3 linked regions of the Homo sapiens genome follow. Each later gene encodes a partner of the first gene's protein in a complex. Each region holds a gene or a part of one and is shown on either strand. Other genes may lie near its edges. The genes, in order: MYSM1, RBM10 and KIF11.

Evidence for each region.
Region 2: MYSM1 (region 1) and RBM10 share a complex: the UniProt entries of both Homo sapiens proteins name them as parts of the large chromatin remodeling complex.
Region 3: MYSM1 (region 1) and KIF11 share a complex: the UniProt entries of both Homo sapiens proteins name them as parts of the large chromatin remodeling complex.

What each region holds. Positions count from the first base shown.
Region 1 is NC_000001.11:58,659,493-58,670,208, forward strand, and holds part of MYSM1 (deubiquitinase MYSM1), read right to left. Parts: intron 9,547-10,716; coding exon 9,492-9,546; intron 9,191-9,491; coding exon 9,140-9,190; intron 9,075-9,139; coding exon of another isoform or gene 9,069-9,074; exon of another isoform or gene 8,938-9,068; intron 8,430-8,937; coding exon 8,355-8,429; intron 7,735-8,354; coding exon 7,546-7,734; intron 6,140-7,545; coding exon 6,007-6,139; intron 4,031-6,006; exon of another isoform or gene 3,958-4,030; intron 2,020-3,957; coding exon 1,914-2,019; intron 1,736-1,913; coding exon 1,678-1,735; intron 664-1,677; coding exon 505-663; 3' UTR 1-504. UniProt on the Homo sapiens protein: Metalloprotease with deubiquitinase activity that plays important regulator roles in hematopoietic stem cell function, blood cell production and immune response.
Region 2 is NC_000023.11:47,166,654-47,177,369, reverse strand, and holds part of RBM10 (RNA-binding protein 10), read right to left. Parts: intron 8,056-10,716; coding exon 7,872-8,055; intron 6,343-7,871; coding exon 6,112-6,342; intron 4,243-6,111; coding exon 4,173-4,242; intron 2,352-4,172; coding exon 2,278-2,351; intron 871-2,277; coding exon 784-870; intron 1-783. UniProt on the Homo sapiens protein: Binds to ssRNA containing the consensus sequence 5'-AGGUAA-3'. May be involved in post-transcriptional processing, most probably in mRNA splicing. Binds to RNA homopolymers, with a preference for poly(G) and poly(U) and little for poly(A).
Region 3 is NC_000010.11:92,587,796-92,598,504, forward strand, and holds the start of KIF11 (kinesin-like protein KIF11), read left to right. Parts: upstream 1-5,334; 5' UTR 5,335-5,580; coding exon 5,581-5,657; intron 5,658-9,063; exon of another isoform or gene 9,064-9,494; intron 9,495-10,709. UniProt on the Homo sapiens protein: Motor protein required for establishing a bipolar spindle and thus contributing to chromosome congression during mitosis. Required in non-mitotic cells for transport of secretory proteins from the Golgi complex to the cell surface.

The sequences.
Region 1 (10,716 bases):
TCCTGTTAGATTTATTAATCAGTAGTTCTAAACCATATTAATTATCTCAGTGACCACCCATCCATATCTCATTTATAGCCATAAACAAATCTCAGCAGAATATATGGAAAGAATGGAAGTGCTTTTAAATGAAATAGGAGATACCACAATGGAACATAAATGACTAGTTCAGGGAAGAAATGACTTAGAGACATAGTCCAAATCCCAAGCTGAACACAACAGTAAAGCCGACCAGGTTGCTTAGTTTCACAGCCTACAGCATTGCTCAGTAAAGGACTAGAACACCGTGGTGGACCCTGGTTTGCAGAACACTCTGATAATCACTATATGAAAACAAATTTGTATCTCTTCCTTTTCACATGATTTATGTGGCAAAGTTTGGATTTTGTGAAATAGAGAAAAAATACCAAAGCTGTGCCAATGTTAACTACAATCACTTCAAGTTTATAACTTTGAAAGTAAGATCTACTGTGTCAAGATTAAAATGTCTTAACTTTAAAATAATCACATTAACAATTCCTTTGTACAGTTCTCTTCGGTTACTCCATTCTCTTGGTTGCTTTTATAATTGGAAAGGAACAAATTTTCTATTTCAGTCAAGAATTCTTCAGCCATAAAGCAATTGGTCACTTTGCTCAGAGTCTTCCTCATACACTCCAAAAGCTAGTTGAAAAGAAAAGTTTTATATTTAAATACAGAAAAAGTATGAGGGTTTGCATTACTATCACTATTTCGTCCCTTTCCAGACCTCACATTTCCTAATGCTCAAATGAGAAACACTCTCCTTAAAAATGGTTGAAGATTAACTTGTGTTTAATAGTCACAGAGCTGGAATGTAGGAAATTGCTGCTGAGGAACACTCAGCTTAGTACTTTTATGATTTTACATAAGGAGACAAACCTGAGATTGTTTATGTGATGCTTTCTACTTCGGACGTATTTGCGACTTTTCTCCATTTGTAGTTACACTTACAAAGCAAAATAATCCTGAGTATACACACACACAAAAATCTAGGTACATAAAAACATAGGATTCTGCATTTCAAAATGAGGATGCTAGCTGGAGTCTATTTCCTTGGAAATGTGCACATACTTTTTCAACAACACACAAAAAACTGGATATAACAGAAAGGAGTAAAACATATTAAAAAGAAACTTAATGTTTAAATTTTCTATCCCCAATTGCTATTTAAAAAGACAAATGTTGCAGATCTACTAGCCTTCAATCATTACAGAAGCAAAACCTAGACGTGAACTGACAGAATTCAAAACTCTTATTTCCTATTAGAAAGTTAAATAAAATGACTATTTAAATTTAATTGTTAGATTTATACCATCATTCTTAAAAATGACCAATTGTTAAGGCTAAAATGGAAACATGGCACTTTCAAATTTAATAAAATAAGAAAAATGTTCTCCATTGTGTATAATAATAATCTGCTAAAATCAGCCAACACTGACAAATTTATTCTAAAATAGAATTTTTTCTATGTGCAAGCTTGGGCAACAAAAAACGTTACTAATTATCTCCTAGAAATTAATTTTCCAAAGGAAAAAGTAATAAAAGAAATATACAGAAAATTATCCACAAAGTATTAGGCATCATGGGAAAACACATTGAGATGAATAGCTTCAGAATCTGTGAACAATGGAACCAATTAAAATGAAGACAGCTTACTTTCTGCAAACAAGTCAGGTCAGAATCCCGGCGAAAGATTTTATCCATGGGGACGCTGCTGTAGGAAGAAATATGAAAACAAACTGGTGAAACGAATACTATAAACTAATCAGTTTCATAATAAACTATCACGGATGCCATACATCACAATTTTATATTTAACTTGGGTTTTCTCTGAAACATAATTTAATGAGCAACACTGCAGATGTGCAACCATCTCAAACCACAGTACATACCTATGGGAGAGCCTGTATTTTTCTATTATCCATCTTGTCTTTTCAAATACTAATCCCCACTGAGGTTCTTCTAACATCTGCTGTACTTCAAATTTGTAAGGTAAGCCTAGAAAAGCATAAAGAAGCACATTGTCATCAACTATTTCTTAACTCTCCAATCTCCTTTTAATTATACTTAAAATTCCCTTCGGTGTTTTTACAGCCATAGCTTTGCAGATCAGCTGAACAGCACTTTAAACATAGTGGGCATTCATTAAATATTTATTGCCCGATTGTACTTGGTCCACTAAGCATATTAATGCCAAGCTATTAATAATAATAATGAGTAAAAGTGCCATTTACATGACAATTCTACGCATGGCACTATGATGGGATGATCACGTAATTTATCACCTAAACCAAGAGACTTTTTGAATGAAAGAAGGTACTATTAATAATTATGCCTGAACCGCAGGTTTAAAGTGGGATTATCCTAGACAAACTAAGACATATTGCCATCCTAGTGATAATTAAAAATATATATATATACAGGTTATTAAGCTTACAACAATGCTGTAAGTTATTGTTTTTTTTTTAACAGGTGAGAAAACTGAAGCTGAGATACATTAAAAATCATATTTAGGCTAGCAAAGTGGCAGGACACAGATGTTAAAACCCAGCAGGTTTGCCTCACTTCTGAGCCCAAACTCATTCCACCTCCCTAGAAGAGCTAATCTAAGACTAGACAAGAGGATAGGATGAACTCTGGGGAGGCAGCAACTGCTTTGAGTCAAAGTTGTTATACTAAACTCTGGAGGAAAGAAAGAAGCCCAAGGGGTGAACATCATATATTCATCTAGAAAGGAAAAAATACCAAACGATGAGTTATCTTAGCAATTTTTCACATATCCTTCAAGACCCCCATGCAAATGCATCTATAGCATTTTTTTAAAAGCTCAGCTGATTCACTAGCAAAGGCTGATACCATCATAGTAACACTTATAATGCATACTATGTGCCACCTAAAACTTAATGTGAAATCACTTAAATGAAGTAGCTGCCATTATTCACCCCCCCCTTTTTTTTTTTTCGATGAGGACACTACGTCATAGAAAGGTTAACCTGCTCATGATCAGATATAAAAGGCATTGGCAGGATTTGAACCCAGGCAGTCAGGCTCGAGAGTTCTGCTTTTAACTTATACATAATACTGCCTCAACTGGGTTTCTACCATGGTAAGGAATAAATAAAATGCCAGCAAATCAGAAGGCATGGAAAAAAAAAAGGGGAAAAATACAATTATTTCCTCACAATGAAATAAAGCATAGCTTAAATGTCAATATGCTCTAAAAAGGCATTTTTTCAGGTGTTTGGAAGGAAAGGGGACAGCAAGCCTGATGATGATGACTGATCTTTTTTATTTAATTGCTCAATTTTCCTCTTCTCCAAAAACTTAAGAAGAGTGACACACTATAGTACACGGGGTATTAAGCAAACTCCTTATGGTGATAACAGTCATTTACTTGACATGCTTTGATTACTTACTAAACATGGATACCATCTATATAATGATAACCACCCACTGAAAACCTATTATTTGCTAAACACTTTACATATATTACTGACACACCTTACAACCATATACCTACTGTAAGCAAGGTAGTAATTTTTTCTCATTTTACAGATGTAGCAAAGGAGAATGAGGGAGTAGACTGCCCAAGGTAAAATAAGCAATAAATGTCAGAGCTGGGATCTGAATCCAGTAGAGTGACTCCTACTCTCAATGAAAGTTGAAGATGAAAATAAAGAGAGGTAAATAATGCATTTTCAATCTATGCTGATGCAAAAACATGAAAACATACACACAAATTATATACAGGTCTATTTGGTATTTTTAAGAATATTTTTTAAGTTAAAAAAGGTACTTTTAAAGTCAATAAGTTTCTTTTATAGAGAATATTTTTATCCACTAAAATATCAGAAGAAAACTGATCACTAAATATATTTCCTGCCTGTCACAAGTAAAGAAAACATTAAACCATTAGAGATATTGTAAAGATATGACCTGAGTTAAAAGTACTGTAGCACAAGGTATCCCATGGCTTCTAGAAAACCTTAATTCTTGCACCAGAGGATTTCTAAGGGCAAAGCAAAAGACCTAGGATTAAGATCTAATACGCAGTGTTAAGCATGGACAAGTCATTTACAAGACAGCTCTGTCCAATGGTAGCTCATGGGAGCATCATGGATAGTTCCCTCTAATGCTTTCAAGTAGTTCTTTCCCATCTGGGCTAGTTTATTCACATACATGTGCTGATCTGTACTTTGCTAAATACTCCAGGGATACTCTTCTACAAATCTCCAGAGTTCACTCTCCATTCTGCTTTCTGTTCTCTTGGGGCTCTGTCTCACAAACTCAGCTGTCTTGGTCTCCTTATCTCCATCACCTTAATTGAGTCGGCCTGGCTCTGGGTGGGTTTCTCCTTCTTGTGCCATATCTGAAAACCCTCTTAAGCAGTAAGCTAGGGTAATGTGGGGCTCTTTTCATTTGTTTCCCATCTCTTAGCAATCGTATTCCTTTGCTGCTAAATGTTGTGTTTAAATACCATTATTTTACATATTTTGTCCAGTTTTTTGGTAGTTTCAGACAAGTTCTTTTTACTTCATTTTGGCCAGAGTAGAATTCCATGAACTAAATTTTAAATTTCATGTAATTCTAATCAACTTACATTTAAAGTCACACGTACTGCTATTGTACTGGATAGCATCAGAATTGAGGTTCATTACCAAAACCTAGCAGTCTGTGAGATTATAAAATCAAGTCAGATGATGATTTAAAGATGGTTTAAAAATGATTTAAAGAGAACAAGTTAATTGCGATTCTTTTTATAAAACTGTACTGAGCTAAAGAATAATATGTATTATGTGCTATGCTCAAAATGGACATTCCAGACTAAAAGCTAATACCAATATTATTAATTCAGTAAAAACCCATAGTGTTGACCACCTCCTAGATGCAAAGCAATTTATTAGGTGCTACTTGAGAAAAAAGACAAATAAGACACAGTCCCTGCTCTTTGGGCATACAATTTATTAGGACTTGCTAAATAGATAAATTGCATTAAAAGACAAAGTGACCATGAAGGCAGGAATAAAGTGTTGCAGATACATAAAGAATAAAGCAACTAATAGTAAATAACATGGGGGCAGTGCTGGTAAATCTACATCAAATATAGGGCATCCAAGAGAGATCATTAAGAATGAAGAGAAATTAATTATTAAACAAATATTCATTTAGTATCTACTTTATGCCAGGCCTCATGCTAGAAACAGGATAGAAAAAATGGGTACAATACAGTATTTATTCTCAAAGAGCTCATAATCTAATGGGGAAGAGTACAATGTGGGGTAACTGTAGTGGCAGTGTCCAGGGGACCTGACCTATAGCAGTGGTAGTAATGACAGAATAAATATCCTAGAGTTATTTAGCCTACTGTTTCCTCTGATTATTTGCTTTCTAGCCACACTCCCTTCCTTTTCCTAGTCTGCTATACTAACTCCCTATCCGCCCAGAAATGTTTGGACTACAAGTGGACATAAACCTCAGGGGAATCAAGTCAGATGATGGTCTATGCCAACCAAATTCTTTCCTGAGATAGAATGGGAACAAAGAGAGATACAAATTGAGTTAGTCATTGTTAACCCTAAACCGGGAGGTGACAGAGAGCTGGTGGTCATTTTTTTTTTCATTTGCATGCCATCACAGAGAAAGCCAGTCTGCATTTATAAAAAAATTTTCATGAGAACAGAGACTGTTTTGTTTACTGCAACATCTCCAGTGCCTAGCATACACACTGCCTGGCCATAACTTTTCTCCATATTTCAATCCTTTTGCCCAGTGGCCATGGTAACAAAAGTGGGGACTTGAATATAGCAGGAGATTAAGAAACGGAAGAGGGTGGCTGCACTAGGGTGGCACCCAAATAATGATTCCCTAGTTGAGGGCACAAACTCTTGCATTAAATAATTTTAAACAGTTGCAAATCTTTTGATTTGTATGAGTCAAAGAAATAAGAGTAGAAAGAGGATAAAGTTATTTTTGTTGAAAACTTACGATAAGAGCCATCTGGGCTAATTTCCTCACTTATAACCAGGCAGGTAATCTGAGAATATGGTAAGGGATTATTTCGATTATAGGGACTAACAATCATCCCAATGAACTTTGCACCTCCTCTGGAGAAGTAACTCTACAATGACAAGAAAAATATAATTAGTTTCAACTATATAAATTCAAAAGCCAATATTTATCCATACTAACATTTTAAACATCTAATGGGGAAAAGCAGGAACAAAAAGGTGCATTAAAAAGTTCACATCTGGCCCGGCACAGTGGCCCACGCCTGTAATCCCAGCACTTTGGGAGACTGAGGCAGGCGGACTGCTTGAGGTCAGGTCAGCCTGATCAGGCTTGAGACCAGCCTGGCCAACATGGTGAAACCCCGTCTCTACCAAAAATAAAAAAATTAGCCAGGTGTAGTGGCACGTGCCTGTAACCCCAGCTACTCAGGAGGCTGAGGCAGCAGAATCCCTTAAACCTGGGAGACAGAGGTTGCAGTGAGTCGAGATCCCACCACTGCACTCTAGCCTGGGTGACAGAGTAAGACTATGTCTCTAAAAAAAAAAAAAGTTCACATCCAAACTGCAACTAAATCAAATGCCTTAGATATTCATCTCACACGGTACATTTTTCAGGCAAAAATGTGTTCAACCAAATCCAAAATGACCCTTAAAAATATAAAATGGCCTACACAATCTGTATTTGCCATGAATATATTTACTAATTGTATTCACCACCCTACATCTGTAATTCTTATCAATACAGTAATAATTTACAAATACCCTACAGCAAACCCAGTCACATATCAAGTGTAAAATCCCAGAATAAAACTTTTTCTTCAGCTATAAAAAATACATTATGTTTCTTATTACTTCAGTTGTATCTAGTCCCTGTCCTAGTTGTTCCCATCAATTTTTAAAGGCTCTGGGAGTATTTACCAGTGATACATTCATGGCTTGTTTGTACTTAATAAAATAACTGACTTTCTAAATGTTTACATAAACAATTATCAATCTTGCAATCAGAAAAAAAAATGCATGTTCTTTTAAAACCCCCAGTATATGTATTTTTTTTCTTTTTTTTTTTTTTGGCTGGGTGTGGTGGCTCATGCCTATAATCCCAGCACTTTTGGAGGCCGAGGCGGGCCAATCACCTGAGGTCAGGAGTTTGAGACCAGCCTGGCTAACATGGTGAAACCCTGTTTCTACTCAAACTACAAAAAATTAGCTAGGCGTGGTGGTGCACGCCTGTAATCCCAGCTACTTGGGAGGCTGAGGCAGGAGAATCACTTGAACCTAAGAGGCAGAGGTTGCAGTGAGCCAAGATCGTGCCATTGCACTCCAGCTTGGGCAACAAGAGCGAAACTCTGTCTCAAAAAAAAAATAATAATAAAAATAAATAAAAATAAACAAACAAAATCCCCAGTATAAAGAATATTAGAAATGTAATATGAAAAATGTTTAAAGTTTATCTATTTAAAAGGGAGCATTGAGGGGGTGTGCAACCATTTACAGAATATAAATATACATGTAATACCTGGTATTTAGCTTGTGTGTCAATATCTCGTAAGGAAGGATTAGGATCAAAAGCAGGATGAGAATGATACCATCCAATAACACTGAAGCCTCTAACAGCCAAGGTTTCTGAGGCCTGTGTTTGTGATACAGGATCCATCTCACACTGTAGTCCTGTACTCAGACTGTTACATGGTTCTGCTGCACAGACCTATAAACGATTGATCCTCAAATGATTATACTAAAATCCTGTTAATTCTATTACTCTAATGTTATAATTCTTTCAAAGATACGGAAACTTTTCAAGGCCAAGACTTTTATTTAACAATACCACAGTTGCCTTTAACTTGCAAATGACTTAAACTCCAAAAGTCTGATTATATGCTAGGAACTTAGCATGCATTTTTCTACTCAAACAAGGTCATAATAATGGTTAGTTTTCCAGGTCAGCCCACATAATACCTGTACAAAGGTATTCTTTCAATGACTCCTGTTACTTATGACAATAATTTCAACAGAATGATGCATACAAACTTTCAACTAAAGTGTTAGTACCTGTTTCTGGCCTCTTAGAAGTTGTAGCTTTTTACTAATAAAGGTAATGAGGACCCAAGGCCTGGCAATGTTCTCTCGGTGGTAAAAAGAAACAGGCGCTAGGCATATAGAATGTTAAGTCACTTCTGGGAATATATAACTTGCTACATTTGCATATTCTCATATATATCATAGGTAAAGTCTGTATTTTAATTATATTAACTGAATTCTATAAAAATATTTGGTATGGTAGTAGGACTAAATAACTAAAACATTTTTTTAAAAGAGAGAACTTACTTCAACTACTTTATCAACTTCTGAGTATCTTCCTCCTAACAGACCAATCACTTCTGCCATAGAAACATGAGCATGCTAAAAGAAATACAAGACAGACTTAGCCCAAACGCACAAACCCACCTGACAAAGTAACAAAACTCACTTATCATAAGAAAGTCATTTGTAAGTATAGCCATCATGCTTTTATAAAATAAAGTAGCATAGGAGAGGAACTAGATGCTAGGATCAGTGCACAGAAACTAAGATTTCAGGTCTATCTTCACTGCTGGCTGAGAAGCTTTCAACCAAACACTTAAAAATTCTCAGACTCTACTTTTGCAATTACAAAATGAAGATACCATTTACTCTCCCTACTCAAGGGAGGTATTATGTAAGGATACAAAGTAAAAATCACTCTAAATCCTTCTACACAAAGACATCACAAACACAAAAACTGTTGGAGGTATCGGTAGTTTAGTAAAAACAAAAAAACCCTCCAAATTACAGGAGTTGTGCTTTGTTTCAGTGATCTAAAAAGTGGCAGACACATATATTAGAAACTTAAAATAGGGTTAATGATGGTAAACAGTCTGCAAAAACTCACATTAATTTATTTTCTCTAAAATATGGAAACATGCAATTGTTTGGCTTTTCTCCAAAAGAAAAGACTTATTTTTAGATTCCTTGTAAAAGAGGACAGTTAAGATCCAAAATACACGTCTTCCATACTCTGTCTTACGCCTGCAATAAAAATACACAAGAGTAGAAATCAGAATAACTAAGTAAACACAATAGATTATCCTTACCAAATCCATTATTAAAAGTGCTTCTGAAGCCACTTTCACCTGAAATGGCTCCTGAAATATAAAAAACAAAACAAAACGGGGGAGCATAAAAATAGAGATTTTTGTTTTCCCCACCTGGAATGCCCACCCTGTTCTCCTTTATCCACCCCACCAAGTTCTCAGCACTAACCAAAGCTCAGCACAAACTAGACTTTTAAAACATTATGATTTAAAATTCCAGCAGGGAGAAATTCTCTCTCATTTTCAGTCTTTTTATACATATGCCTTGCACATACGGAAAAAGAGTAAGCATTTCCTGTTTGACGGGGAAGCGGGGATTGTCTACTGTCATTCATTAATGCATAAATAGTACCTGCTTTTCTTCACTAAAAAAATTACAAGGTATCAGTTGGAAGGGATCAAACGAGCTGAAAAAGAAAAAAAATTTTCAATACAATCTCAACAAGATTAGGAAAATAACATTTATTTGTAAATCTGAAAGTGTATATCAATAATCTAAACCCAAATTCTGTCTAAATGAGAGAGTTTTGTAGGAAATTCCATAAACCCTTTCGAAAGAAGCACTGTTCTTTTAGATTTAACAAGAACAAAAAAAAAACCCAGGAACTTTGAGATAAAGTTGCTCTGTTGTCTTAATTTCCTTTAACACTCAAAGAGGACACTATAAACTATCAGACATATGTCCCACACTAAAAGCAGATTTCAAAAAGTCCAATGAAAATATAATTAACTGTCATGAGACCCAAAAAAAGGTTCAAGAAAGATGGAAGTTTATCAAAAACACTTGTCAGTTCAATAATGTGCCCACTATAGAATAGGAACTTAAAACATTTTTTGAATGAATGAATGACAAACAGTTCTGGTAAAGATATTAATGTATTACTCCTATCATAAACTCTTCAAGTGAAAAAGTGGCCAGGTGCAGTGGCTCACATCTGTAATTCCAACACTTCAGGAGGCCGAGGTGGGCAGACCCCTTGAGCCTAGGAGTTTGAGACCAGCCTGGATAACATGGTGAAACCCCACCCCTACAAAAGAATTTCAAAACTAGCTGAGCGTGGTGGCGTGTGCCTGTAGTCCCAGCCACTCGGGAGGCTGAGGTGGGAGGATCACTTAAGCCCAGGAGGTGGAGGCTGCAGTGAGCCATGATTTCACCACTCTACTACTCCACTCCAGCCTGGGTGACAGAGTGAGACCCTGTCTCCAAAAAAAAAAAAAAAAAAAAAAAAAACAAAAAAGTGAAAAAGTAAAAAGAGGTGAAAAAGAGAGAACCTAAGCAAGGTCAAAAGCACACATAAATCTCAGAAATGTCAGTAAAGAATTGAGGCTTGAGAACTATATTAAGAACAATAAAAAGGTTTTTTAGGCTATCTTCAGGGAAAGAAAAACACACAGGAATACATTCGCATTAACACAACTGGAAGAGAGCAGGGCAATTCCATTTCCATTCAACCATAGATGGTTAGCTTCAAGAGAACATTTTGTTTTGCTTAATAATGTATCCCAAGTGATCAGAACCGTGCCTGACATATACAGTACACATTCAAAGATACTTGTTGAATAAAGAAAGACCTTTA
Region 2 (10,716 bases), on another chromosome or scaffold:
GGAGCAAGGCACAGGGCACAGCTAAAGGTTCACCCATGGTTCCACCTCTCTGAGCCTCAGCTTCCCCTCAGGGAAGACAGAGGTGACTACAAAACCACAGCCTCCAGTTTCAGGTTTGACTTGGCCTGGTCAGAGTGGCCTTCAGGCTTGAGCTACCTGCTATGGGCTCTCAGAACGCTCTGTGCTTTTCTTTCATGATTACAGTTAACAATTCGACTGTGTTAAATGTGGGCCAGGCACTGTTCTGAGTGTTACTCTCTCATTAACACAGCTGAATCCTCCCAACCACCTTTTGGGAGAGGTGTCATTAATATTCACATTTTAGAGATGGGGAAAGTGAGGCAAAGAGAGGCTAAGCACCTTGGCCAAAATCAAGGCCGATCTGGGATAGTCTCATTTCAGCCAGTCTGGCTCTGAAGCCCACATTCTCCACACCACCACTTCAAGTCTACACTGTCACTAATTCATCATCCACGTATATATTTCCTTAAAGTCTACTGGAACTCCAGGCAAGACTGCATTTTAGGAGGACAGAGCCTGCACCAAGTGAACGCTCACTACACATTTGTATATGGCTGGCTAGGAATGGTGACTACTCAAGCTGAGCTAGCAAGGGATAGAGAATGAGAGAGAGAGAGAGAGAGAGAGAGAGAGACAGAGGGAGAGGAGAGATTGGGGGAGGGGGAGAGATGGAGGGAGAAAGAGCGGGAGAGGAAGGGAGAGATCGCCGCCACTGCTGTTGCTGTCTCTGTCCATGACAACTGCTGCCCACCGCCCCTGTACCTTATTGCACAGCCAGTCCTCATTGATCTTGGGCTTGGGGTCACTGTAGTGCATCGACACCTTCTGGCCCAGGATGTTGAGGGAGTGCTGCGGGAAAAAGCAGAGCACAGTGAGGTCCAGGCAGCAGTGCCCCACGCACCGTTTCAGCATAGGAGAAGAGAGTGAGCGAGCCCTTCAGCTGGATGGATGAGGGACAGGGAACGGAGGGAGGTCGGAGAGCGGATGGAGGGAAGAAGGGAGGTAGGGAGGGAAAGCGCCACAGCTCTCGGGCGCAGCTGTTTGCTGCTCTGCCGGGCACACGCACGCACACATGTGAACACACACCACCAGGCACACAGTGTTCGGCTGACCGACGCTTGCCGGACAGTGGGGAGAAACCCCCACTCGGCCCTGACACTGCCAGGCCACACCCAGGGCCAGGACTACACAGGCTACACTTGGGGGGTGAGGGGAGACAGGGAGGGGGAGGGAGAGGGGAGAAAAAGAGAAAGAGAGCGCAGGTGCGCTAGTGCTGGAGAAGGGGAAAAAGAAAGAGCCATTTCGAACAGATGGAAGTTTCTGCCATGAGGCCGTCTTCCCATGGATGGCTGGGTCCTGGGCCCATGGCACTAGCCTACCAACCCCGAGGAGACGGCCCCAGGGCTGCCTCTGCCGGGATCCCCCATTCTACCACCTCTGCCCCTTCCTCCCCTGAAACTGCTCTCCAGTGCCCTACACCAGGGATCTGGGCAGGGGTGGGTGACCAGGCAGATCTTTGGGTCTCGGAGGTCCCAAAGCTGCTGAGTTGGGATCCCGTGCCAGGCTTGGGGGACAGGCTCCCCCCAGGGCTGACTGTGCACAGGTCCTTGCCGAGAAGACAGAGCTGCCTGAGGTGGTGCCTCCTGCGAGTGTGGAGATGTGATAGGAAGGGTAGGGGCGGCGAAGTGAGGCCAGGGTGTCGATAAAACTATCATACTCGACGGGAACTTGAGATCAACAGAGCAGTGCTGTCCCCTTGCATGAAAATCAAAGGGCCAAATTCACATGCAGGGATGGGGCTGACAAAATGAGTCTTGCTAGTGACTGTGCCAATAGCTAAGCTCCTCACTGGCAGGACTTCCAGTGGTCCTGAGGGTGGAATGAGGTCCTGGCTCTGGCTAACCCCAGAGAGGGGTGCCCCCCCCACCAGCCCCGGGGGAGTGGGAAGCTAGGTGAAAGAACCCACCCTGGCAGCTCTTTCTCTGAACGCTCAGCTGGGAGAGGTGAAGGGGCAGCACTAGTGCCTGGTGGTAGGAAGGGGCCAGTGGTGAGTGTGGGCTCTGGATGAGAAGCCCAGTGGGGTAGCGAGAGATGGGAAGAGGAGATAGTGAGGGTCAGGAAGGGGAGAGAGGGGGCGGGGGGATGGGACACAGGGCCACAGGGCAGGGAACTGTGTCCATAAGAATCAGGCGATGGGGAGCGCTCGATTACAAAGTAGTATTTGTTTGGGGGGGGGTTCAAGTGCGGCAAAGCAACCTGATTGGCTTCCATCCATCGTGTAGCGTCCTGCAAGTGACTAAACTCGACGAAGGCGAAGCCCCGGCTCTGACCTGGAGACAGCATTCAGATACAGACGCAGTGGGTTAGTCAACAGCTTTGGACACACGGCGTTCCCGGGGGCGGGACCCGAGGGGAGAGGACGGGGGGCAGAGAGGGAAAGGGGAAGAGGAAAAAGGAAGAAAGAGAAAGAGGCAATCAGAGAGAGAAAGACTAGCGGGCGTGGGGGGCAAGGTAGATGGCCAGGTGGGGCAGGGAAGGTGGAGGGAGAAAAACAGAGGCCAGAGGTCGGTAGGGGGAGAGACACACACACCAACTGGGAAGAGAGAGATGGGGCTCGGGCAGACCTGCCCAGCCAGCCTGGGGTGACAGAGACGGAGAGAAGCAGCTGGGAGGGAAAGAATACGAGAGATCTGCCTCCAAAGAAGGAGGGAGGGGATGGTGGGCAGGCTGCTGGCTCCACACAAGCCACAATACGTAACTCCAGGGCGGGCCCAGCTCAAGGCCAGGGGTGCCCAGGAGGGGTCCTGTAACAGGTGTTGAATCACAGGAGCAAAAGAGAAGCTGGGCCAGGCTGCTCTGCGAGGCTAGGAAGGCTCTTGGCCCATTGGAAACCAGGGGCGGTTAAAGACACGACCTCATCTCAGCCTCACCGCAGCGCAGGGGAGGCGGGCCTCGCTAGGGAGCCACCTCAGGGCCACAGGGTGGAGACTACAGCCACAAACAGTCCAGGTTCCCCTGGACAAAAGGAGAATGGTGGCCAGGATTGGCCAGGAGGACCTTAGAGGTAAGAATCAATGGGTGCCTGGGAGAAGCGCCCAGGGCCATTGAGAAGGCCGCACCTGGAACACCTCCTTGTGGAGAGAGAGACCCAGAAGCTGTCCGTGTGTGGTGTAGTTGGGGTGATGCAGAGCAAGACCTACATGCAACCAAGATTCCAGGCTTGGGAAAGGGATTCAGGGTTGAGGCCTCAGGATAGCATGTCCTTTAGAGGCAGATACATGGGGAGGGCTTGGATGAGAGGGGCTTGGGGGGGCATGCTTAATGTTCAAAAGAATAACCGTTAGGATGCATAGGAGGATGGAATGAATAATATAGTTGGGGGGGGCAGAGAGAGAGAAAGAGAGAGAGGGAGAAAGAGAGAGAGAGAGAGAGAGAGAGAGAGAGAGAGAGAGAGAGAGATGGAGGTGTGGGGAGGAGAGACTGAGAGATGGAGAGAGAAGCCCAGGCAGAGTGAGGCCCCACTGTGCCTGCCTTGGGGAGCCTGGGCAGAGGTCCTGTAGAGACAACTCCCCCCACCACCACCCTGCTAACCTCAGGCCAGCTCCAAGCAGCCTGCAAGAGGGAGGGAGGGAGGGAACAGGCGAGGCCAGGAAGTCCTGGCTGTTCCTTGGGATGTGTCCTTGGATAAGAGCCATCCCCTGCTTCCCCCTTGGGACACACATGTGGGACCACCACGTCAGAGCTACTTTCTGGTCAGAGGCTGTTACCAAAAAATGTGGGGGAAAGTGAGGGGCAGAGGAAGGAGAAGAAAGGAGAGGGAAGGGAGTGTATGGGAGGGGGTTACCATCTCAGATACTCAGAGTCCCAGAGAGGAGGTGCCTGGGAGCCTGGCCCTGGCCCTGACCCCAGGGAGCACCCAGCTCAGCTCAGAGCTGCACCCCTGCCCCGACAGCCCCATTGAAGAGGCTTTTGGCTGGAGCTGTGAGGAGAGTGTGGGGAGTGGGAGAGAAGAGAGGGCACCCCCCACGCTGCCCATTCCCAGCTGTGGCAGGAAGGTGGTGGAGGGAGTGGGGGAGAAGGCAGAGGCAGGAGGGAGATTCGGAGGCTGAGGCTGGCCACTTGAAGGGGAGGGCACTAGAACAAAAGCTCACCTGAAGATTTGTTCCGCATCAGCCGAACCTCCCGTGCTTGCACGCCGTGCGACTGCAGCTGGCCACGGATCTATACGGGGAGATACAGAGTAGGGCAGGCTCAGCACAATGGGGCCGCTGGGTACCTGAGGCTGGCTGGAGGCCTCTGGATCCCGAGGGGTCATCGGTGATGTGCACACAGTCTCCTCCGCCTCTTTCGCAGCTTTTCCCTGAGTGACAACAGCCCCAGGCCCACACCAGTTCACAGTCTTGACTTTCAGCCCCAGACTTGCAGAAAGTGAATCAAATGAAGAAATGGGCACAGAGCAAGGTAAAGCATGGCAGCAGGACGACCCTCAGGGGCACAGAGAACAAGAGAGCAAGTGAGCCAGCCACTTAAGAACGGTGGGCAGGGTGATCTGACAAAGGGCTCGCTGGCAGCCACGAAGTAAGGAAACCTGGGATGCAATTCTTGCCCTTGGCAAGGGGATAACCCGCACCCCCGCCCCTGCCCTGCTGACCTGCAGCTTGCGTCAAAAGAGATCCATGACATAAATGTCAAACTGGGGAGGACAGGAGTCTGAGCAAATCCCAGCCATGTGCCCTAGACCATGACTGTAGCAATAACTTAGGGTGGAGACAAAAAGCAAAAAGATGTAGTCCTGGGGATTGCTTCCCAGATGGAGTAGGCCAGAGGGAAACTGCAGAGGCAATTCAGGATTTGGCCCAGGTGAGGCAGGGTCTCTAGGCCAGTGAGGTCTCTCACTGAGGACCAGGAGCCTATGCCAGCCATTCTTGGGAAGGAGTCTTCATGTCTCTGGGCCTCAGTTTCCCCACCAGGTTAAACAACAGACAGGACATTAGCCTTACACACACCCATACACAGGGTGAAAAGGAAAAACACACAGAAGAGCTTATCAGGACTCCAAACTCAGGGAAGGCTGAGGAAGCAGCAAAAAGTGGGCTCTAGGGTCCAGCTGCCCGGGTTCAGACTCCAGCTCTGCTCTGCCACTCACTGGCTATGAGACCTGGGGCAAGTCACATTCCCACTCAGGGCTTGGTTTCCTCATCCGAAGGATGGAATACAAAGAGTACCTTCCCTGCTGGGCTGCCATGGGGACTGAATCATACCTAACACATGGCCCACCCTGAGATACATTCTCAACAAATGTCAGCAACCAGCTACTGTCTGACCCTGAACAGGGCAGGTGGGCCAGACCTTAGAAACCCTCAAATACACAAGTGGGATTTTCTCTGTTACAAAATGAGCAGCTAGCAGATTTCAGAGGAGGGCTGATCAGAGAATTCATGGGGGTAGGGGGTGAGGGGCGGCGGAGTAGACTAAGAAGGACCAAGATCAGGACACTATTCTTGGAGGTTATTCTGGTAGGCCTCGTGGGGCTTCAGTGTGGCTGTCATGAGAAGTATGTATGAAAAGGAAACAGGAGGAAAGGGAGGCAGGCGTGGAGGCTGTTAGCAGCCACCCAAGGCTCTGAGGCCAGGCCAGGCTGCTGACAAAAAAGGATGGGGGAAAAAGAGAAGGAAATTTCAGAAAATCCCATCCCTCCCCCAATGGTTACAGGGCCCCAGTGTCATCTCTGCTACCAGCAATAGCCAGCACTGGCCCGGTGAGCGTCTGGCCCATGATGCACACATGCAAAATGGCTGGATGACCAGTGGAATGTGCAGGACTGCTCTTCTCCCGCCCATACCCACCACTACCAGACACCCATGGCCAATGTCCCTTGGCCAAGCCGGCCTCTCTGACACTCCTCCCTCCAGACCGGGGGGCCGATGGGACCTGCCCACAGAGGACGGATCAGTGCTGGGGGATAGGAGCTGGAGGGGGAGAAGGGATGAAAGGCGCTGAGGTTGCAGGTGAGGGAGGGGTGGGGAGAAGTTGAGGGCCCTGGAGGAGACCCAGCCTGGCCTCCTGCCCGGGGCCATGGGGGGCACGTACGTCATCCTCAGTGGCTGCCTGTGGCAGCATCCTCAGCATGACGATGTTACTGGCCTTCTCCTCCTCCTCCTCATCCTCCTCCTCCTCCTCCTCCTCCCCTTGCTCGGTCCGATAGTCCTGGTCCCGATAGTCGCCGTCTCGGGGGAAGCCTGGCGGGCCGGTGGGGCTGTGCCTGTGCCGCCGCCGCCGCCTACGCTGAGTCTCGGAGCCCGGGGAGGCCTCGTAGGAATCCTGGCCGACAGAATGAGATGAGTGACACCAGACGGGCAGTCAGTCTGGGCAGGCCTAGGAGCTGGCCGCTGGCTCTGTGAGGCAGGCAGGCTCTGAAAGCCAGGGATGTGCGGGCTCCGGCTAAAGGCTCAGGCAGGCAGGGTGGGCAGGCCCCGGCCTGCAATCTTTCTGGGACTGTAAATTCTCCATGGGGTCCTTTTGGGGGCTGCCTTCAGTGGGTGGGGAGAGGTAGGTGACAGTATTGGTGTGGGGGGAACTCCCAAAGGTAGCTGACAAGACACAGCTTAAACCTCCTTGGGGCAAGATGGCCTGGGGTCAGCACACCAGACCCCACCCTTGATTTTCCTCTCCTCTCTGGCCAGCTCAGGGGGTGTGCTCAATTGCTTCACTGTACCACCGAAGGCTGCATGTCTCCTACGGTTCCACCCTGCAACCAAGCTGGGGGCATAAGAACAGCTTCAGATCTCAGCCAGAGCCAGGCAGCAGGAGCTGGTGGAGGTGGTGTGAGGGCTGCAGACACTCCCTCCTCAGTCCCTGATCCTCAGCCTTGGCCAGTCCTCCACCACACACCACGCTCAAAACGGTATGGCTGTTGGGCTCTGGGCTGTTGCCCAATCCATCCATTCCAGGACTAAGCAGAGCAGGCCTGGGGCCAAAGCCCTCCCGCCCACAGTGGGGAAGCACCAGATAACTTGGTGCTCCATTCCCACCCTGGCCAGGGCCCAGTGCTCCTGGAGACGTCTGGGCACAGCTTGACAGCTGCCACTGGAGAAGCCTGGCAGTCCACCAAAGGGGTTTTTGCCCTGGACCCTCCAGAGGGCAGTGGGCAGCTCACAGACTGCCCCCCAGGGCTGGGCTTGCAAGAACTCCCTTCCCAGCCTGCTGGACAGGAGAGCTGCCTGCTCGCATGGACCAGGTCCCTGACTGCCCCTCCAACTGGGATTCCCCTAAGGCAAGCCTGTTTCTTCCCCTCGGGTGGGGGCTCCCTGATGGTGTAAACATCGCGCCTCATCCCGCAGGCTAGGGTGAACTACCCAACATGGCACTGGCTTCTCCAGAAGGGTCCTTCCCTTCTGTCTAGGGGCTCTATCACCACTGGGAATGCCCATGGCTGGCCTCCCAGAGCTCCTCAGCTTGGTGGTCTGCAGTCCCCTTGTTGTCCTCCCAACCCCAGACGCCGGGTCCCATGGAAGAGGCTCTTCAAGTGCCCAAGTTGGCTGGGAGCGGGCAGTACAGGGTTCACAGTGAGCCATGGGCCCGAACTGAACAACAGGGAGAAAGGGAAAGAGTGGTGGCCAGGGGCCCTCAGAAGTACAGAGCCAAGCATGTGGAAGCCAGGGAGACCCAGGTTGGGAGAGGAGCCCTCAGAGAGGGGAGTGGGAACAGGCCCTCCAGGTGAGGCAAAGCCACCGAGCACAGTCTGAAGGCACGGGAGTGGAGAGCTGCCTGCACACGGTGCTGCAGCCAGACACAGAGGGCCCTTGGGAGCCCATCCCAGCCAGGCCTGGCGCAGCGCGCCCCCTCCTCACCTCCGCACTCTGCTCCTCAGATGAGTCGTCATAGTCATGCTTGCCCTCCTGGCTGCCATACTCGCGAGGATATGAACGGTAGTCCATGTCCCGGTAGTCGTGGTCTCGGCTGCGGTTCTCCCCACCATCATCCTGCGAGCGGTCAGTGGCTCCATAGCGGCCAGTCCTGTCACCACGACCACCACTAGTGGAGGAAGAAGGATGGGGAGGGATCAGAAGGTTGCCCTTTCTAAAAGGTGCAAGAGGCCCAGGTGATGTGTTCTCGTAGGGTTTTGGTTTTTTTGGAGGAGCATACAACAGAAGTGAGGTGCCCTTCTGATCCTATCAGAGAAAGAAGTACATGATACCACCATGACTTAGCTCTGGTGATGTTAACCATGGTCATCTGGTTAAGGCAGTGTCTGCCAGGTTTCTCACCCTGTAAACTTTCTATTTTTCCCTCCCCCTACTCTATTCTTTGGAAGCCCTCAGGCCCGCCCCCATACAGGGATTCCTAAATCCCTGCTCCACATCTCTGAAGTGCAACCTGCCTCTCTCCATCCCTATGTCACTCTCTGGTCCATGCCACTGGCTTCCCTCATGGGGCACCTTGGTTGTGGCCTGGCTGTTCTCCTCACTTCTACCTGGACCTCCCCAGTTCAGTCTCTACATCCCAAATCCCAAATGTGAGTGCTTTCTAAGGCAAAGCCACTCAAACCCATCTCACTCCCTTTAGTGGCTCCCCCTCAGTCTCAGGATCAAATACCAAAATGCTCACCAAGGTCTCATTCGGCTTGCAGGATCCCCGGGGGTGAGGCTCCTCCTCCCTGTCTTGCACCACGTCCCCTGCCCCTGCTTCACTGTCACCTTGCCGACACTAGCAGCTCTTTCATTAAAATTTCTCCTACCGCAATAACTGTAAAATAATGATCTCAAAGCTGATTTCATCTGCATTTCTTTTCTTTTTTTTTTGAGAATGGATCTGGCACTGTTGCCCAGGCTGGAGGGCAGTGGCATTATCAGGGCTCACTGCAGCCTCAACCTCCCAAGCTCAAGCCATCCTCCCACCTCAGCCTCCTGAGTAGTTGGGACCACAGGCACGCACCACCACGCCCAGCTCATTTTTGTATTTTTTGTAGAGATGGGGTTTCACCACATTGCCAGGCTGGTCTCAAATTCCTGGGCTTAAGTGATCCACCCACCTCAGCCTTCCAAAGTGCTGGGATTACAGGCGTCCACCACTGTGCATGGCCTAATCTGTGTTTCTTTGGTGAGTTAAAAAATTACTAGAATATGGGCTCCAGGAAATGAGGGGACCCTTAGCTCACTGCCATATTCCCTAGCACTCAGTAGGCGCTCAACAATTATTTTGAACAAATAATGACTAAAAAAGCATTCTAAGAGCAACCAATATATGTTTATTTAAAATAGAAAAAACTAGATGCCACAGAAGAATGCTACTATACTAACAGGATTCCAATTCTGGTCGGGAACAACATTAGAATGTCCGTTATCAACAGCATTCTTAACATTATTCTAAAGACACTAGCTAAAGCAATTAAACAGGGAAGGAAGAAAAGAGGTTAAAAGCTGGAAAGGAGAAGGTAAAATTACCATTATTTGTAAATGATATGAGAGTATACCTGCAAAGCCTAAGAGAATCAACTGAAAAACTTGTTATAAATAATAAATCAGTAAGGATGCTGGGTACAAATTAATGTAACCACTGTTTAGAAAATAGAAAGGTCCCAAGTACAATTCATCAAAAAGGTTAAATACCTAGACATGTGCAAGATATTATGACTATACTTCACATATATACCAGGATATATTTGAAATAGATCAAAGATTTAAACATAAGAAATGAAACCATAGGCCAGGCGTGGGTGGCACCCTGGGAGGCCGAGGTGGGCAGATCACTTGAGGTCAGGAATTCGAGACCAGCCTGGCCAACATGGTGAAACCCCATCTCTACCAAAAATACAAAAATTAGCTGGGTGTGGTGGCATACGCCTGTAATCTCAGCTACTTGGGAGGCTGAGGCAGGAGAATCGCTTGAACCCGGGAGGCGGAGGCTGCGGTGAGCCACTGCCAGTCTGGGTGACAGAGTAAGACTCTGTCTTAAAAAAAAAAAAAAAAAAGAAATGAAATCATAAAAGAAAATATAGAATAACTGAATAATTTCTTTATAATCTTGAAATGGGGAAACCTATAATCCAAATCCAGAAGCCACAGAAAAGATTACTAAATTCAACTACATAAAAATAAAATACTTTTGCTTGGAGAAAAAAACAGAAAAATAAAAAACATCATTAACCAAGTCAAAAGACAATAAACTAGGAAAAAATATGGGGAAAGGAAGTAAACAGAATTCACAGATAAAAATATCAATGATGTGTATCTGAAAAGATGCTCTATCTCACTCATAATGAAAGATGAAAATTTTGCCGGGCGCGGTGGCTCACACCTGTAATCCCAGCACTTTGGGAGGGTGAGGTAGGCGGATCACAAGGTCCAGAGATAGAGACCATCCTGGCTAACATGGTGAAACCCCGTCTCTACTAAAAATAAAAAAAATCAGCTGGGTGTGGTGACACGCACCTGTAGTCCCAGCTACTCGGGAGGGCGAGACAGGAGAATCGCTTGAACCCAGAAGGCGGAGGTTGCAATGAGCCGAGATCGCACCACTGCACTCCAGCTTGGGCGACAGAGCGAGACTCAGTCAAAAAAAAAAAAAAAAGAAAATTTTGCTAGGTGAGATGGCTCATCCTGTAATCCCAGCACTTTGCGGGGTGAAAGTGGGAGGATTGCTCGAGGCCAAGACCAGCCTGGACAACATAGCAAGATCCCGTCTTTACAAAACCAC
Region 3 (10,709 bases), on another chromosome or scaffold:
AACCTCCACCTCCAGGGTTCAAGCGATTCTCCTGCCTCAGCCTCCCAAGTAGCTGGGATTACAGTCACGTGCCATCACACCCAGCTAATTTTTGTATTTTTAGTAGAGATGGGGTTTCGCCATGTTGGCCAGGATGGTCTCGAACCCCTGACCTCAGGTGATCTACCTGCCTTGGCCTCCCAAAGTGCTGGGATTACGGGCGTAAGCCTCCGTGCCCAGCCGAGAAATGTTGATTATTAGGCTGAGTAGTTTGAACTCAACAAAGGCAATGTAAAATGACATTTCAGGGACTGCTTAGTGCAACAAAACACTTACATGGGGCCATTAGACCCTAACTATCTCTATTAGACTTAGCCCTGAGGGCAAGTACAATAATTCAGCCTGTATATTCACTGCCAGGCCCACAGTAAGCATTTCAAGAAGAGTATGAGAAAAGTGGATGTGACCAGGCATGGTGGCTCATGCCTGTAATCTCAGCACTTTGGGAGGCTGAGGTGGGTGGATCACGAGGTCAGGAGTTCGAGACCATCCTGGCCAACATGGCGAAACCTCGTCTCTACTAAAAATACAAAAATTAGCTGGGTGTGGTAGCGCGTGCCTGTAAACCCAGCTATTCAGAGGCTGAGGCATGAGAATTGCTTGAACCCGGGAGGCAGAGGTTGCAGTGAGCCAAGATTGTGCCACTGTACTCCAGCCTGGCGACACAGCAGTACTCCATCTCAATTAAAAAAAAAAAAAAGAATACATGTGCACTTAGCAAATGAAAAAAACTCAATGGGAAAGACAGTAGTTAAGAACCTGGGAGTTGGAATGGGAAAGAATTCTAAGTTCCTTCCCTAATAGTTAACCTTATACTATGATTAAAGTGTAAGTACAGTGATATGCTGTATGACTACAGACAAACTTATTTGGCTAGTTTACTGATAAAATAGTAGAAAATAATAGTTCCTACTTCACAAAGTTGTTCTGAAGATTAAATGAGATGATACACACAAAGCCTTTAGCATGGAGTCTGACTCACAGTAAACCCTAGGTAAATGGTAGCTGTATCTATTATCAAATGGAGACTCTTGAATTTCTTGCGTCAACCCATGTGACTGTTAACATATATATTGTTTGAATATTTGCTAAAGAGAAAGGAAAGACGGCCCAGCAGGGTAGCTTATGCCTATAATTCCAGCAGTTTAGGAGGCTGAGGTGGGAGGATTACTTGAGACCAGGAGTTCAAGACCAGCCTGGGCAGCATAGGGAGACCCCCATATCTACCAAAGGAAAAAAAAATTAGCCAGGTCTGGTGGCTTGTGCCTATAGTCCCAGCTACTCAGGAGGCTGAGATGGGAGGATCCCTTGAGCCCAGGAGGTCCAGGCTTCAGTGAGCCGTGATGGTGTATTGTACTCCAGCCTTGGTGATAGAGCAAGACCCTGACTCAAAAAAAAAAAAAGAAAGAAAAGGGGATTTTTTTTTTTTTTGAGACAGAGTCTAGCTCTGTCACCCAGGCTGGAGTCCAGTGGTGCCATCTCGGCTCACTGCAACCTCTACCTCCTGGGTTGAAGCGATTCTCCTGCTTCAGCCTCCTGAATAGCTGGGACTATAGGCGCCCTCCACCACACCTGGCTAATTTTTTTTGTATTTTTAGTAGAGACGGGGTTTTACCATATTTATTGGCCAAACTGGTCTTGAATTCCTGACCTTATGATCTGCCCATCTCGGCCTCCCAAAGTGCTGGGATTAAAGGCATGAGCCACCGTGCCCAGCCAGTGTACTTTATATGTATCCCAGGTACTTTATATGTTATTTTAATCCTCACAATAATAGTAATTATTATTATCTCCATTTTACAGATAAGGAAACCAAGGCTGATAGAGGTGAAGTAATTTCCTTCAGGTACTCAATATATATTTATTGAGTAAAGCCTTACTTTGGTGTAAGGCTTGTTCAAGACACTGGGAAAATAATACTGAACAAAAAGACAGGGTCCCTAATGAAACTTACATTCTATCCAGGGAGACACACAATATATTGACAATATAATATATTGTCAATACACACAATATATTGCCTGTAGTGTTATGAAGAAAATAGACAGGGTTCTGAGATAGAAGGTTATAAGAGGAAGGCCAGGTGCAGTGGCTCACATCTGTAATTCCAGCACTTTGGGAGGCCAAGGAGGGCAGATTACTTGAGGCCAGGAGTTCGAGACTAGCCTGGCCAACATGGTGAAACCGAGTCTCTATTAAAAATATAAAAAAAAATTAGCCGGGCGTGGTGGGGCACTTGTAATCCCACCTATTCAGGAGGCTGAGGCACAAGAATTGCTTGAACCCAGGAGGCGGAGGTTGCGGTGAGCCGAGATCCCGCCACTGCACTTCAGCATGGGGGACCAGGACAAGACTCCGTCTCAAAAAAAAAAAAAGAAAATTATGAAGAATGTGCTTTAGATAGGGTGGTCAGAAGAGGTGTTTTTAAAAGAAAAAGTTCAACTGAGAGCTGAAGAATGAGATGGGTAAGCCATGCAAAGAGCCAAACAGAGTTCAGGGCAGAGGGTACGTCAGGTACAAGGGCCTGGCCACAGGAAAAAGCTAGGAGCTCTGAAGCATGGTAATGAGATTTTTGGAAAGTGCCTTTAGTTGGTGGTATGGACAAGGGCCAGATCATGAGGACCCTACAGAGCATGGTAATGAGTTTGGATTTAATTCCAAATACAAATGAGAAGGTAATGTAAGATTAAAAAGCAGATGAAGAGCATAATCTTATTTTCTTATTTCTTAAAAGACACTTCCCTTGCTGAGTAAATGTAGTGGAGGAGTTGGGGGTAGGAGAAAAGGGCAGAAGAGAAACTTGTTAAGGAGGTAGATGACATTTGTTCAGGGAAGAGATAAGAGCCTTGTACTAGGGTGATCATCGGAGGGGAGATAAAATCAACAGGACTCCACTACACGTGGAGGAATCAAAGGTTCTGGTTAGCACCAGTATCCAGATGAGAAAAGATTAGGGTGGAGATAGGTCCCATTTTGAAATGCCAGCGAGCCACCTAAGAGGAGATATCAATAGACAGCTGGCTACTCAAAATAGAGATGACCAGCAGAAGGAGCTGTAGATGCAGTTATTTCCTTGGGGCGGGTTGTGCGGGGGGGCGCATGTAGGGGATTAGCAAGTGGAGGAACACAAAAAGGACATCAGAGCTTTCCACTACACCGGGTTGTTACTTAATAGACTAACACGACATTTAGGTTCCCATGGGTTGTGTGGGCCAGAAGCGCAGTTCCAGGAACCGACTACAACATAGTGTGGGATATGATGTTTCTCTTCAAATAACCCGATCAATCTTTTATTCTTTAATTCATAGTACCCTCCCTTTTTTCTCTTTTTCTCCTTTTTTGCTTTTGTTAAATGCCCAGGCACGCCACAATACTAGGCCTTATCAATACCAGCTCACATTCCTTTCCTTATTTGAAGGGACTAACTTTTTAGCTCATTACAGACACCCCTTCCCCTTTCCTGTCCGCTTTCTTTTAAGTACCCACCTTAGCTAAAAAAAATCAAATGTTTAGCCAACCGGGATTAGTTTAGATTATACGACCCGACCCCAGCCAATGGGAAAAAGATACAGGGGCAGGACTTGCGTCAAAAATAGACTCCTGCCCCTTTGTTCAGGTGTGCTCTCAAGGCGACTGGCCAAAAAGGCACCCCTCTGCGCAAAAATAAAATTGCTTTGCTAAAAATCCTTTGTTCAAGTGTTCAATTTCCTTAAGATTTTAAAAGTTATTCATAACAATAGGCTCCTGTTTCAGTATTTCCTGGTGCGGCGTACCACACCTACAGCGGTCGAGTCACGCCAGGCACTGCCAAGACGCCGAAAAGTTCTCCCGCAGCAGGCCGGAGGTGACCGACGGCGCGCAGGCCCCAGCGAGCGCTGCATGCTGGGATCCGTAGGCCGGGGCGGCGGATGTTTGCGCAGCTTCCTTGAGATGCCACCGCCCGCTGCGCCGCGCAGAAACGGGGAGCGCAGCGCACCCGCGGCCTGCGTCACTCGGTCAGTGCAGTCGTTCTAAAATCGAGGCGGACCCTGCTTTCTTGCCTGGAGTCACTTAGAGATGATGACTAAAGGATAAATTCAGAGTCCTCCAAATGGCGTCCAGTGTCCATTTCATCACGATTTGGAACCTGTAGTAGCCTTATCGCTTAACACTTCCTAATTATTATTATTATTATTTTCTTTTTGAGAAAGGGCATTGCTCTGTCGCCTATGCTGGAGTAATCCAGCGACATAATCCCGGCTCACTGCAGCCTCTATCTCCCGTGTTCAGCGATCCTTCTTCCTCAGCATCCCGAGTAGATGGGACCAAAAGGCACGCATCACCACACCAGGCTATTTTTTCCCCTCTATTTTTTGTTGAGACCCGTTGGGAGGCGCGGGGAGGGGGGTCTCCCTATGTCGCCCAGACTGGTCTCAAACTCCTGGAACTTAAGTTATCGTCCTACCTCGGCCCGTTAAAGTGTTGGGATTACAGGCCTGAGCCACCGGGCCCCAACATTAATTATTCTTCAAGCCTATTCTGGACCGGGCGCGGTGGCTCACGCCTGTAATCCCAGCACTTTGGGAGGCCGAGGCGGGTGGATCATCTGAGGTCAGGAGTTCGAGACCAGCCTGGCCAACATGGTGAAACCACATCTCTACTGAAAATACAAATATTAGCCGGGCGTGGTGGCACGCACCTGTAATCCCAGCTACTCGGGGGCTGAAGCAGCAGAATCGCTTGAACCTGCGAGGCGGAGGTTGCAATGAGCCGAGATCGCGCCACTGCACTCCAGCCTGGGTGACAAGAGCAAGACTCCGTCTCTCACACACACACACACACACACACACACACAAAGACTATTCTGGTCTCTGCCTCCGGGATGGCGGCTCGCTTTGGACCTCTCTTCTGTGCTTCTACTGCCCTCTCTTACAATTCTCTAATAATTATAATCATGGCGAGTGCTTACCATATATTCCAATCTATTTACTTCCACAAGCTCATTAATTCTCACCCTAACCCTCTGAGATGGTTACTATTATTTCCTCTCTGCAGCTGAGGGAATTTTGGGCTAGGGACGTTATGTAAGTTGAGCCACGCTACGCTAAAAGTTCCACACTCAATTCTAGCGTCTCGGCTCTGGACTACCAAGTTCCGGAGCAAGCAGACAGACCACCTCTTTACGTTCCCGTAGGCCACGCTCCGGGGGCGGGGCTCCAGTGAGGATACTGCATCCCATGGTGCCTTGCGCGCCAGCGCAGCCATTGGTCCGGCTACTCTGTCTCTTTTTCAAATTGAGGCGCCGAGTCGTTGCTTAGTTTCTGGGGATTCGGGCGGAGACGAGATTAGTGATTTGGCGGCTCCGACTGGCGCGGGACAAACGCCACGGCCAGAGTACCGGGTAGAGAGCGGGGACGCCGACCTGCGTGCGTCGGTCCTCCAGGCCACGCCAGCGCCCGAGAGGGACCAGGGAGACTCCGGCCCCTGTCGGCCGCCAAGCCCCTCCGCCCCTCACAGCGCCCAGGTCCGCGGCCGGGCCTTGATTTTTTGGCGGGGACCGTCATGGCGTCGCAGCCAAATTCGTCTGCGAAGAAGAAAGAGGAGAAGGGGAAGAACATCCAGGTGGTGGTGAGATGCAGGTAGGGAGAGGGCTGACAGGATTCCGAGCGCTGCGGCTTCGCTGCTGGGCCCCCTACTGCGCGGTCCAGGGAGAGGGATTTTATTTGCATTTCCTGAGGGTCCCAGTTTCTTGGTTCTCCGCGTTCTGTTCAATAAAAATGACACCCGGTTGCTGTGTGTATGTGGTTTTTAGGAGAAAATAACATGTTTGATTTGATCACTGTTCCATACTGAAAAGTGCGTTCTTATGTTTAAACTATAGTCAATAAAGATGTAGGTGTCACTTTTATATGCTACTTCATGTAGTTTGTCAGTTTGGAAGTAAGACTGAATACCTATTTTGCAGATGGTTAAGCACTTACGTTGGTATTATTACCTCTAAAAAGCAATCAATCACTGTTCTCTTTATTCTAGATGCAATATTTTCTGCATCCCTACTAAACAAGTAAACATCTCTGTCTTTAAACATTAAAAATTAATAAAGTGAGTTTATGTTTTTTAAAAGATCAAGACAAGTTAAGCTAGTGTAAATTTCTGATTGTGCTGCAGTTTTCCCTTTCATCTGCGTGTTTGTTCATAGACCAAACTAAACGGATATTTCGAGATAAAGGGATGTGGAGGGGTGTTCGGCCCTCCCCTGACTGGTTTCCAAATAACTTCCCAATTTTAAAATAAGCTAGAAACTGCTGCTTAGTTAGAATTGATTTATTCAACTTTTTAGAGGCTCTCCACAGTTTACTGAGTATGTGTGTTTTGTGTGTCCGTTTTTGTGGCTGTTAACAGTTGCTGTTGCAACTTTTCTGTAAACCCCAAAGTATTCTAAAATTAAAAGGTTATTTTTTAGAAAAACTTGTATCAACAAACTTTCTTAGGCTATTGTTTACTCAGCCCTGGTAACTTGAATTGTGGATATCGAAGGTGATGACTAGGTTTCTAAACAAGGTGTCAGAGAGGAAATTGGGTGGCAATCTTAAGTCTAGCCAGTGACACTTACTAGTTGTTGTACTCTGGGGCTTCTGTTAGTAGTTAGTTGTTTGAAGATTTTTATTTAAAAATGCAGTGCATATAACAAGTGCAAATTTTAAAATTATTTTGGTTGTTTAATAAAACCAGGCAATATTACCTTTTCCGTATGCATTTATTTAATTTCTTTTTTAATGTTAGTTACAAAATATTTCAGACTTACAAAAAGTTATTAAGAACAATGTAATAAACATTTGTATATTCATCACCCAGATTAAGAAACAAAACAATCATTGCTGGAGCCCCCCTTTTCCCTCTCCATCCCTTTTCCTCCAGCCACTGTTAACCATTATCTTGAACTTGATGTTTATGATCCGTATACATTTCAAGTCTTAGAAGAGATTTACTTTATCACCAATGAATAGAATAGTTCTTTGCTTGTGTCTAATATTTACAATAATTTTTGTGTAAAGAGATTTTTTTTTTCAGATTAGCCTTTTTCTTTCAAATAGCCTTCCTGGTGCGTCTGTCATTAAGCATTAAGCTTTAGTAAATAGGCAACTTATGAGTTGCGAGGTCCTCAGGGGTTGGTAAGCCTTTTCTGTAAAGGGCCCAGAGAAATAAATATTTATTTTATTTAAATACTTTAGGCTTTGCAGATCACATGTGGTTTATCAGTTTTTTTTGAGACGGAGTCTCGCTCTCTTAGGCCGTAGTGCAGTGGTGCAATCTCAGCTCACTGCAACCTCCGCCTCCCGGATTCAAGCAATTTTCCCACTTCAGCCTCTCAGGTAGCTGGGATTACAGGCGCACACCGCCATGCCTGGCTAATTTTTGTATTTTTAGTAGAGATGGGGTTTCACCATGTTGGCCAGGCTGGTCTCGAACTCCTGACCTCAGAGAATCCACCCACCTTGGCCTCCCAAAGTGCTGGGATTATAGGCGTGAGCTACTGTACCCCTTTACATGTGGTTTCTGTCACATTATTTTCTGATCTTTTTTTTTTTAAGAACACTTTAAAACTGTAAAAATCATTCTTAAATCTGTCAGGGCAGGGGCCAGGTTTGACCCACAGGTTAAAGTTTACAGATCCCTACATAATGCGCTACTGGTTCTCTTTCTTATGTCCCTCCTATTCCATCCCCTATTTTTTTCCCAATTTAAAAAGTCATTTTCAAACACACATAATATAAAATTTAACATCTTAACCACTTTTAAGTGTACAGTTCAGTGATATTAAATACATAATATTCTGCAACAATTACTACCATCCATCTCCATAACTCTTTTCATCATGAAAAACTGAAACTCTATACACATTAAACAATAACTCCCCATTTCCCTCTCCCATCAACCCGACACCTACCATTCGACTGTCTTATGATTTTGACTACTCTAAGTACTTCATAAAGTGGAGTCATAATACAGTATTTATCCTTTTGTGACTTGCTCATTCCACTTAGGCATAATGTCCTCCAGGTTGGACCATGTTGTAGCAAATGTCAGGGTTTTCTTCCTTTTTAAGGCTGCATAGTATTTATTATATGTATATACCACATTTTGCTTGTCCCTTCATATGTCAATGGATACTTGAGTTACTTCTTTTTTTGTTGTTGTTGTTTTTGAGACCGAGTCTCGCTCTGTTGCCCAGGCTGGAGTGCAGTGGCGCGGTCTTGGCTCACACTGCAAGCTCCATCTCCCGGGTTCACGCCATTCTCCTGCCTCAGCCTCCCAAGGAGCTGGGACTACAGGCGCCTGCCATCTCTCCCGGCTAATTTTTTGTATTTTTAGTAGAGACGGGGTTTCACCATATTAGCCAGGATGGTCTCCATCTCCTGACCTTGTGATCTGCCCGCCTTGGCCTCCCTAAGAGCCGGGATTACAGGCGTGAGCTACGGAGCCCGGCCTTGAGTTACTTCTTACTTTTAGCTATTATGAATAATGTTGCTATGAATATGGGTTTTCAATTCTTTTGGGTATTTACCCAGAATTGTAATTGCTGGATCATATGATAATTCTATTTTAAAGTTTTTGAGGAACCGACAAACTATTTTCCACAGTGGCTGGACCATTTTACATTCCTACCAACAGTGCATAAGGGTTCCAATTTCTCCACATCCTCACCAACGTTTATTTTCTGTTTCTTTTTTTTTTTTCAAGTAGCCATCCATTGGGTGTGAGGTGCTATCTCATTGTAGTTTTGATTTGTATTTCCCTAATGATTAATGATGTTGAGCATCTTTTCATGTGTTTACTGGCCATTTTGTGTATCTTTGGAGAAATGTCTGTTTAAGTCCTTTGCCCATTTTTAAATTGGTTTGCTTTTTTGTTGTTGAGTTTTAGGAATTTTCTATATATTTTGGATATTTTCAGATACATAAACGGCAAAAATTTTTTCCCCATTACTGTGGTTTGCCTTTTTACTCATTGATACCGTGTGGTCTTTTCCTTTCTTTTTCTTTTTGGAACCAGTGCATGGCCTCTTTGTTGATTCTGTGTTTGGCCCCAGTGCAGCCTGTTCTGTGCTATGTGTCTGCAGTGCTGAAACCAGGCCTACCCAGCACCATACAGAAGTCCAGGCTGTAGATACCAATGCATGGGTCACATTTGATACCCAAATCTGTGTGTTCCTGGATCTCCAAACCAAAGTTTCCAGTATCTGAGAAGTTGTTCTTTCTTGATTCACACTCCTGCATCTTTAGACCTTTCTTCAGGGTTTCTTCTGCTTTGGCCCTTTGTGCAGTGGGTGGCAATCTTCACTTCTCCTGATGCCAAAGGATCTGACAATGTATTTGACTTTGGAGAACACAGGGGTCTGGCCTATGAGCTGCTCCAACACCTTGGCTGCTGGGGTCAGTCATCTCCAGTCTCCTCCATACAGATGTTGAGACAGAAAATCGTTCTGTCACCCAGGCTGGAGTGCAGTGGCACAGTCTCGGCTCACTGTAACCTCTGCCTGTCAGGTTCAAGCAATTCTTATGCTTCAGCCTCCCAAGTATCTGGGATTACAGGTGTGCACCACCATGCCTGGCTAATTTTTTGTATTTTTAGTAGAGATGGGGTTTCGCCTTGTTGGCCAGGCTGGTCTTGAACTACTGGCCTCAAGTGATCCACCCATTTTGGCCTCCCAAAGTGCTGGGATTATGAGTGTGAGCCCTCATCTGGCCAGAGTTCTCTTTTTTTTACCTTGATCTTGCACTATGATGGAGAAAAGGAAGATAAAGTCTTTTTTTTTCCCTTGGGTTTGTTTGTTTGTTTGTTTGTTTGTTTTTTGAGACGGAATTTTGCTCTCGTTGCCTAGGCTGGAGTGCATTGGTACGATCTTGGCTTACTGCAACCTCCGCCTCCTGGGTTCAAGCCATTTTCCTGCCTCAGCCTCTAGAGTAGCTGGGATTACAGGCATGCGCCACCACGCCTGGCTAATTTTGTATTTTTAGTAGAGATGGGGTTTCACCATGTTGGTCAGGCTGGTCTTGATCTCCTGATCTCAGGTGATCCGTCCACCCTGGCCTCCCAAAGTACTGGGATTACAGGCGTGAGCCCGTGCCTGGGCTATTTTTTTTTTCTCCCCTTTAAATATAGTATCTTGCTTTATTGCCCAGACTTGTTGTGAACTCCTGGACTCAAATAGTCCTCCTACCTCAGCCTTCCAGGTAGCTGGGATCACAGGGATGCTGTCTTTTGATACACAAACATTTTAAATTTTTATGAAGTCCAGTTTGTCTTTTTGTTTTTGTTCCCTGTATCTTTGGTGTTATATCCAAGAAATCATTGCCAAATCCATTGTTGTGAAGCTTTTGCCTTATGTTTTCTTCTAAGAGTTTTATAGCTTTAGGTCTTACATACATTTTTGATCCATTTTGAGTTAATATTTGTATATTGTGTTAGATAAGGGTCCAACCTCATTCTTTTGCATATGGATATTTAGTTTCCCAGCACCATTTGGTGAAAAGCTTGTCTTTTTCTGATTGAATGGTCTTGGCAACCTTATTAAAAATCATTTGCTCATATGTAAGAGGGCTTATTTCTAAGTGCTGTTATGTTCCATTGGTCTATAAGTCTGTCTTTATGTCAGTACCACATGGTTTTGATTATTGCAGCTTTGTAGT